3 separate regions of the Homo sapiens genome follow, and all the other regions are linked to region 1. Evidence: fine-mapped expression QTL. A gene starts in region 1. Each other region holds a variant in brackets. All regions are shown on one strand. Distances are from middle to middle.

Region 1 (2,500 bases):
CTGCCCCGTTCCACCCCCGCGTTTCAGTCATGCTTTCCAGAAATGGGGTCACTCACTCAGTAACTATTACACACACGCAGCCTATCATCCTGTAATCCCCTAAAGTCCGCTGCGGGGAGAGAAGGCAGCAAAAAGTCAAGAAGGAAGAATCACAGACGCGCCACCATCAGGAATTGATTTTCCACTCCGGAGAGGAGCGGTGATACCTTGGAACGGGTCTTGTCTGGATTATTTTCGCAGACCCCGAGTTGTTCTGGGATAGGGGCGGTTCAGGAAAGCTCGGTGTAGTGATGCGCCCGGGGAAATTCTGTTTTGCCCTGTTTGGGTATATTGTTTGGGTTTTGGGCACTAGGATGGGTGACTCAGGGACGGTCACCAGATCCCGGGCGAGGAAAACCAGAAAGCCTTTTACGGCGGCCGCTGATCTCCTTGAATATCACCCTCTCACCTCCATGGACAGGAAACTCAAGTTAAACTCACAGGGACGGGGGTCTAGCTCTGCGACCTCAGAAACGGAGGGGGTAGGGGACCTTAGGCTTCCGCTTTCTTCTTTGCAGCAGCAGAAACCGCTGCGGCAGACGAGGGGGAGGCAAAACCCTGCACCCCCTACCCGAAACCCCCACAGGTCGCCGCCGCCCGTGCCCCGCGCGCCGGTCTCCCCGCAGCAGCCCCTCCCTCGGCTGGACTCGAGAGTCCCTGCTCCCCGGTGAACCCGATCCCTACCCCTCCCTCATCTCCCAAAGTCGCCAAGGTCCGGGAAAGCCCCCGACCCGGCTGGGCCAAACTTCCCAACTCCCCGCCGGCCCCCGCTCCGCCTCCCGCTTCCCCCACGCAAAGTTGATTAAAATTGGCTTCTTGCAAAGCCCCAGCGCCCACTCCAAACCCCACGCGCCACCACACTGGCAGCCCCCCGAGCGAGGGAAGGAGGTGAGGGTGAGGATGGAAGGAACAGACAGACCGGCCAATAGACCCACCCCAACAACCCAAACCAAAACCCTGAGCCCGGGGGAAAGACGCGAGCGGGATCAGAACGGGCCGAGTGGCCAGCTCCGGGGAGCGAAGCGAGCCGGCGGGGGCGCGAGGAGGAGATGCGCCGGCCCCGGCCGCCCTGCTGCACTCACCTCAGCGCTGTCGGACGGGCTCTCCACAGCCATCTTCTGCCACGGGTCCGCCAGCTGCGCCAGCGGCATCTTCCCCCCCGGCCCGCCGCCTTCACCGCCTCCTCCCTCCCCGCCCGCCCCACGGCCGGCCCCGCTCCGTCGCCGCCCGAGCCCCACGGCAGCGGCGGCGGCGGCGGCGGCGGCGGCAGCGGCAGCGGCAGCGGCAGCAGCAGCAGCAGCGGCGGCGGCCCCAGAGAGGGCTCGACGCCGACGCCGACCGCCCGAAAGCCGCGCGCCTGGCCAGAGACGCCCGCGCGCTGAGCGAGAGCCTCGCGCCTCCGCTGGGCACCGGGTCTCGCCCCTTTCTTCCTCTCCTCCTTCCGCCGCCGGGACTACGGCTCCGCCCCCCCCGCCGGTTCCCGCGCCCGCTCCCAGCAGAACAGCGACCGCCGCGCGCTCCCCCACTTCCGCTCACAACATGGCGCCTAAGCGATACCTGTCTCTCAAAGCGAGGCTCGGCCGCCGCCACCACCGCCGCGCGCACCCAGGGGCTGGGCTAGTGGAAGACACGCCCCCGGCCGCTGCGCTCCGCTCCTCCCTCTTCCCACCCCCCTCCTTCTGCGCCCCAACCTCAGCTTCTGGGCCTCGCCTACTTTCAGGAAGGGCGAGCCCAACAGATCTGGGGGCGTCGGCGGGAGGCGGGGGAAAGAAATGGGAAAGGCAGGAGGGGCGAAGGCTGGGAGCCTTTCACCGCCAAGGGTCCAAGGAGGTCGGAGGCTCCTTGGGAATGAGGGAGAACAGTGGTCCCCGCCCAGCTGGGGAGGGAGGTGGGCAAAGTACCGGGGGCGCAGTCCCGAGCCAAGGACCCGGGGAGGGGTGCGGAGTGTCTTTTCGGCTTGTCTCCTCCGGGGGTGCGTGCGTGCGGACGCGCCTAGTCTCTGGGCGCATCCCGTAATGGCCCAAGACCCTCCCTCTTCAGGGTCACATGCTGGGAAATCACCTGCCCCCCATCTCCCCCGACGGAGGCAAGGGAGGCTTCGTGCCTAGGAGCCTCCTGGGGGCTCGGCTCCCGGTTTGATTCAAGTCTTTTCAAGTTGACGCTCTTTTGTTAAATTGTGGCTATTTGGGATTAATTCCTCTTGTATTAGTCGCTTCCCCCGCACCGCCCCCAGCCCAAATTCTCCTCCCCAAGTGCGCAGAGCTCTCGGCCTTCAGCTGCGACCCTGGAACCGCTGCCCCCCGCCCCACGTCTGCTACCTAAATCTTCAAGAGGGGAAAACAGGGAGGTTCCTTAAGGCTGTCCCTCTCGGTAGAGGTTGGAGAATTATTTAAAAATATCTTGTAGGCAGGAGCGCGGGGTTCCTGCTCCTCTGTTGACTTTAAATAAGAGATTAGATTTA
Region 2 (2,849 bases), 110 kb after region 1:
TACTGTTCTTGATTACTGTAGCTTTATAGTAAGTCTTGAATCAGGTAGTATAAGTCTTCTAATTTTGTTCATTTTTAAGTCTAATTTTGTTCATCATAAGTCCTTTGTATTTCCATATAAATTTTAGAATTGGTTTGTCAGTTTCTAAAAAAAAAGCTTTCTGGGATTTTGATTGTGATTGCATTGAATGTATAGATTAATGTGGAGAGAATTGCGTCTTAACAAGATTGAGTCTTCCAATCCACGAGTACGGTATATTTTCCCATTTATTTAGTTCATCTTTAATTTCAGGCATAAATGTTTTACAGTTTTCAGTGTGCATCTAAATTGCAAGTTTGTTAAATTTATACTTAAGAATTCCATATTTTTGTTGCTATTGTAAATGGTAATGTTTTTTAATTTAAATTGCTAATTGTTTATTGCTAGCATATAGAAATACAATTAAATTTTGTATATAGACCTTGTATCCTATGACCTTACTAAATTCATTTATCAGCTCTAATAGGTTTTTCTATAGATTCCTTAGGATTTTCTATACATGTCACCATGTCATCTGCAAATAAATATAGTTTTACTTTTTCCTTGTCGATCTGTTCTTTTATTCATTTTTCTTGCTTTATTTCACTGGCCAAGACCCTTAGTACGATGTTGAATACAAGCGGCAAGTAGATATTCTTGCTTTGGTCTGGACCTTGGGGGGAAGCATTCAGTCTTTCCCCATTAAGTATGATGAAAACCACAGGTTTTTCTTAGATATTCCTTATCAGGTTAAGGAAGTTCCCTTCTATTCCTAGATTGCTGAGAGATTTTATCATAAGTTGGTGTTGAATTTTGTCAAATGCATTTTTCTGCAGTCGTTTGAGATAAACATCGGTTTCCTCTTTTGTCTTAATTACAGCATTGGTTTTAATAGTGAAAAATTAGAAACAACATAAATGTACCTCAATAAATCATGTTCACGCCATGAAATAGTATATAATAGCTAAAAATGATAAACATTTCTGTCTATATCAACATGGATAGGACTTAAATACTCAATATATATAGTGAAGAAACAGGATAATACCTGTGGCAGACATTTGTGGTTATTTTTGGTGGGGAGTACTCAGCCTCTAAACACTCTTCCTCTTTTAGGGGAACCCCTTTTTTCAACCAGAGAAAGAAAGCACACCAGAAATTTTAACAGAGAGAATTTAATTTAAAGAATTGTCAATTAGGTATTGGACAACTGAAAGCAAAAAGGAGCCACTAAGGACTACCACCCCTAAGGATGGATGAACCAAGGGAAAAGGTTGGAATCTTCAAAACGTAGAGGCTTGGAGGAGGAGCCCCATGGGGCATAAACTTGGACCTCTGAGGAGGATGAGGGCTGAATGCCTGGTACTGGAGTCTTTGAGCTCAGAGTGGGCATGATGAGCTGGTTCTGGGAGTGTTGGAAATATTGCAATCAGGAATTTACTGCTAC[C/T]ACAGGCATGAATCACCACTGCTGGGGTGAAAAAGCATTACTAAAGTAATGCTGACAGGCATAGGAAGTAAATAGGATGGAACATTGACCTTTCTTTCTTCCCCAGACTTTTAGGGTCCTCTATTGGCAGAGTCAATATAGGGAGCAAGTGATGAAGGAGAAATGAAGTTTACAGAAAAAGAGAGTCTCAGCCCTGACATCACAAAGGGATATACAGGAGCCTGCGCTTGAAGCAGCGATAAAATAGCTTCATAACTAGCACTCTCCTATTTTGTGAGTATTTTTGGGAGACAGTGTCTTGCTTCTGTAAGGGGCTCAGATACGCCCTCTCCCCGGCCTTTGCAGCTAGAGTGCAACCTAGGCCACCTGAATGGACTTTGAATCTTGAGAGAGTGATGCTAAAATTCAGGAAGAGTTGAAAAATTACTCGTGGTTGAAACAGCACATTGAGAGGCCAGAAGCGGGGGTGTCTAATGTGCAGGGAAGGTAGGAGCGATGGTGACACCTAAAACTGTTCCTGTGCTGTAACCTGGCTGTGCTTCCTGTTGTCCAGCTGTCTTTGCACTTGCTCATCTTATGAAACCATCTCCAGACTTTCCTTCTATCTGCTACTGACTCAATAACCAGTAAATCCTTTTTCTGCTCTCTTGCATCCAAGCACTCAAACTGAGAAAATATCATGCGTGCAAATGTTAACAGATAAGCACAAGCAAATATTATAAAACCTTAATTTTGTTAATAATCAACTTGTTAATTCTGGGTGATGGGGCTAGAGGAGTTTATGTTTTTCTTTGTACTTTTATAACTTTCTAAGTTTCAAAAACAAATTAAAATTTTAACACCTGTGTGAAAATTACTTTTAAAATTTCATAAAAGGCAAAAATTGGCTAAATACCCACCTCTATTTTCTTTTCCTTTTCTTATATTTTAAAAAGATGCCTCTAACCGTCAAATGTATCTGAAAATTAATTGGTAGATATAGAAAGTGAGGCCTCTATCTATGGTTTTTTTTTTCTAAATAATCAATTTTCCCAGCATCAAATTTCCCAGTCCCATTTACCAAGTAGTACTAACCTGAGTAATTTTTTAAAGTTGTGCTGCATTTCTGGTGCTGCATAGGTCTTGTGGTAATAGGTTTGGACAAGTTTAGTAATACCAGCCAGAGCTACACACCATTTCAAACCCTAAATTCCAACTATTGATTTGTTTCCATATTCTCCTACTACAGGTTGAGTTCTCCAAGAAGCAGGCTCTGAGACAGAGTTTAGTGGGAAGGATGTTTATGAAGTGTGCCCTTGAGGCCAACACCTGTGGAAGGGAGGAGAGGAAAGGGGAGAGAGAAGTCGGCCTGTGAAGCGGGCCCAGCTCAGGGCCCAGCTCCCAT
Region 3 (2,849 bases), 140 kb after region 1:
TAATGGTTAGTGTCCTGAAGCTCTGACTGCCTGAGGAACTCATCCTGAGGTAGGGGGGTTGTATTAGTCCCCAGTAACCACTGCAACAAATTCCCACAAATTGAGTGGCTTAAAACAAGTAAAATGTATTCTCTCACAGATCTGGAGTTCAGAAGTCCTAAATCAGTATCACTGGGCCCAAATCAAGATGTTGCTACACTCCCTTTGGAGGCTCTAGGGGAGAACTTGTTTCTTGTCTCTTCCAGCTTCTAATGGCTACTCAACATTCCTTGGGTTGTGGCTGCATCACTCCAATCTCTTCTCCCATCTTCACATTGCTTTCTCTGTGTATGTCAAATCTCCTGCCTCTTTCTTATAAGGATACATATGATGGCATAATTTAGGACCCACCTGGATAATACAGGAAAATCCCCCATCTGAAGATCCTTAATTTAATCACATCTGCAAAGTCAATTTTGCCATGTAAGGTAACAGTCACAGGTTCCAGGGATTCGAATGTGGATATCATGTAGGGGGCCATTTTATAGCCTACCGCAGGGGTGGACCTGTTGAGTAGGGTGGGGTGTCCATTTTGGCTGTGCAGTGCCTTCACTCCTGGGTGGTTGCACTGATACCGGCTGATTCTTGCTTTCTGACTGAGCCTTCTTTTTTGACCCCAATATGAGCATCCTTTTTCTGCCATTAAGATCTTTTATAAACATAGAACAATCCAATCAGCTTTTTAAAAGTTCTAGTTATATTCAAAATTTTGTTGATGGGATGTGGGTGTCCTCAGATATTTTCAGCCACAGTTTACATGGACTATACAGGTTATATTGGTAAGTAACACATCTGTTACTTAAACTCATCCATTCCTGGATATGCCTAAATAATGTCACCCCTACCCCAATATATTGACAGCAACAGATGCTCTGGAATATCCACATGCCGAAATCTCTTCAAATCCATTCTGACCTCTCCTGCCTCCCCAACCCACCCTAACGCATGCACGCGAGTGCAGGCGCACATCCCTCCCCCTCGCCCCATGAAGTTTCTTATATTTTTGGAAGCTTCTGGATAATTGACCTACTTCTGTAATTCTTTTGGCTTGTTTAGATTTGGGCAGAATTGAATCTTCACCTCTTATTAAAATTTCAATACAAATAAGATTTAGTTTGCTTAGTGCTCTCAGCCACCTTTGAATTAGTTGAGACTACAAGTGTATAAAACAGACACACTTGTTACATTCTGATTTTCTCTTATTTAGTGTAGAACATTTAAGATACCTATGATGCCGGGCCACTTTCAGAAAAATACAAATCATTCCTTCAACTTCGGCAGGTATGACAGTCGTGAGTAAACTGTCAGCATCTATTTGAAAATGCGAAGGGTAGAGAATGGAACTCGTAAATTTGACAAGCTCTTTATGTTCCATTCATAAGGGCTAGCGATAAATGAATCTTGATTTAACACTTATTTGTACTGTTATTGGCTTTAAAAAAAAAAGGAAAACATTTTATTGCACTCTGATTGTAGATTATGCTTCTCGGGACTCATCCCTCTGTTTAGCAACATAGGGCAGATTTGATTCAATATTTACCATGTAAAC[A/G]CATGGTTCAGTCTCATGAGTGACCATTTCTGGTTACCCGGCCCCAGTTGAGTGCAGCATTTCCACTCCATCTCCAGAGATCTTTATGTTAGTTTAAGGCAGTTGAAGGCCTTGTGCAATGTTTTTTCTTTTTGCTACATATGATCTCCTCTATTAAGTAAATAGCTTAAATTGTATTCGGGTTACCTTGGAATACGTAGTATAGTAGCATTTTACCTGTCGACTGAAAACAATTTGCAGAGGAAAGCTGATCTAATGCTACCTCCTTGCTTAATTTGTGGCTTCTTACAGAATATAGGGTAAACTCATTTTCTTATATCCATGTCTCTCCACTACCTGTCCCCAGGAAACCTCTCCAATCCTATCATTACCAACCATTTGCTATTATGAAAATGATCTCTGAGTATGCTTTATTAATTTCTGCCTCCCTCTCTCCCTCTTCCTTCCTCCCTCCCTCCCTCATTCTCTCTTTCCTCCCCGTCCATCTCTTTCCTTTTTCCCTCCCTCCCTCTCTACTGGCCTCTTTCTAGTGCATACTCATTAAGCACCTACAGTATGGTGGACTTTACACTTAGCATGGTAGGAAAGATGAAATCGACAATGCAGCCCCCAGCACTGCAGGGGATGTGGACAGAAGCAACAGTACTTACAGTATCTATAATGGTGAATGAATTACCCAACTTTGCTTGAGGAGGTCAGAGAAGTTTTCAGAGAAATGATGACTTGTAAGCTGAGTTTTGAAGGATAATTGGGGCTCACCAGGTAGACAAAGCCAATACATTTATGGTTCACAGAAGCAATGGTACAAATGGAAGAGCAGAGGCAAGAAACACCACATCTGTGCTACCTCCCTTCTCCCTTCCCTCTCTGCCTTCCTTGCACACATATTTAGCGGGTGATCATGTGGCAAGCATCGCCCTAGGTCTCCAGAGACAACACTAGACAAGAAGGACAATATTCCTGTCCTGGGGAAACTTATCTGCTAGTTGTGAAATGACACATGATTTGCTGAGACTAACAGCTCCTATATCCCTAAACACTTCAAAAAATGTTTGGGACGTGTTGCATTCTGAATGCTGCCTCCTGGAGTTTCACGGTGCACAATTTCACAGTCGAGGCCCTGGGAAGTCCTTCATCAAGAAATCTGTTATCTTCATTTACTGTGGTTCTCAAGTGCATTTAACCAGGGGAACTTTGTTTTAAGTAGCAATTAATACCACACAAAGCCAGTTTTCTAAAGGAGTCACTGCAGGAAATGTTT

Direction of the effects. Alleles are on the strand shown, and positions count from the first base shown. SD is a standard deviation of normalised expression in the study named. Not every link is listed here.
As copies of T replace C in region 2, the expression in fibroblasts of the gene that starts at base 1,467 in region 1 goes down (small effect, 0.22 SD a copy in GTEx).

Evidence for each region. PIP is the estimated chance that this variant, and not a neighbour inherited with it, causes the effect. A credible set is the group of variants that fine-mapping cannot tell apart.
Region 2: its variant is the best candidate, but not a certain one, in a credible set for the expression of RPS6KA3 in fibroblasts (GTEx, PIP 0.57).
Region 3: its variant is the best candidate, but not a certain one, in a credible set for the expression of RPS6KA3 in whole blood (TOPMed, PIP 0.82).

What each region holds. Positions count from the first base shown.
Region 1 is chrX:20,265,443-20,267,942 of GRCh38, forward strand. It overlaps RPS6KA3 (ribosomal protein S6 kinase A3), which reads right to left and starts at 1,467. Exons shown (of 22, transcript NM_004586.3): 1 at 1,122-1,467. The coding sequence starts at 1,190. RefSeq lists silencers at 928-1,187, 1,308-1,527, 1,949-2,243.
Region 2 is chrX:20,371,285-20,374,133 of GRCh38, forward strand. No RefSeq gene overlaps it. Among named protein-coding and RNA genes, the nearest start is that of RPS6KA3, 110 kb to the left of the region's middle. The variant C/T (reference allele first, on the strand shown) is at 1,466.
Region 3 is chrX:20,408,565-20,411,413 of GRCh38, forward strand. No RefSeq gene overlaps it. Among named protein-coding and RNA genes, the nearest start is that of RPS6KA3, 140 kb to the left of the region's middle. The variant A/G (reference allele first, on the strand shown) is at 1,589.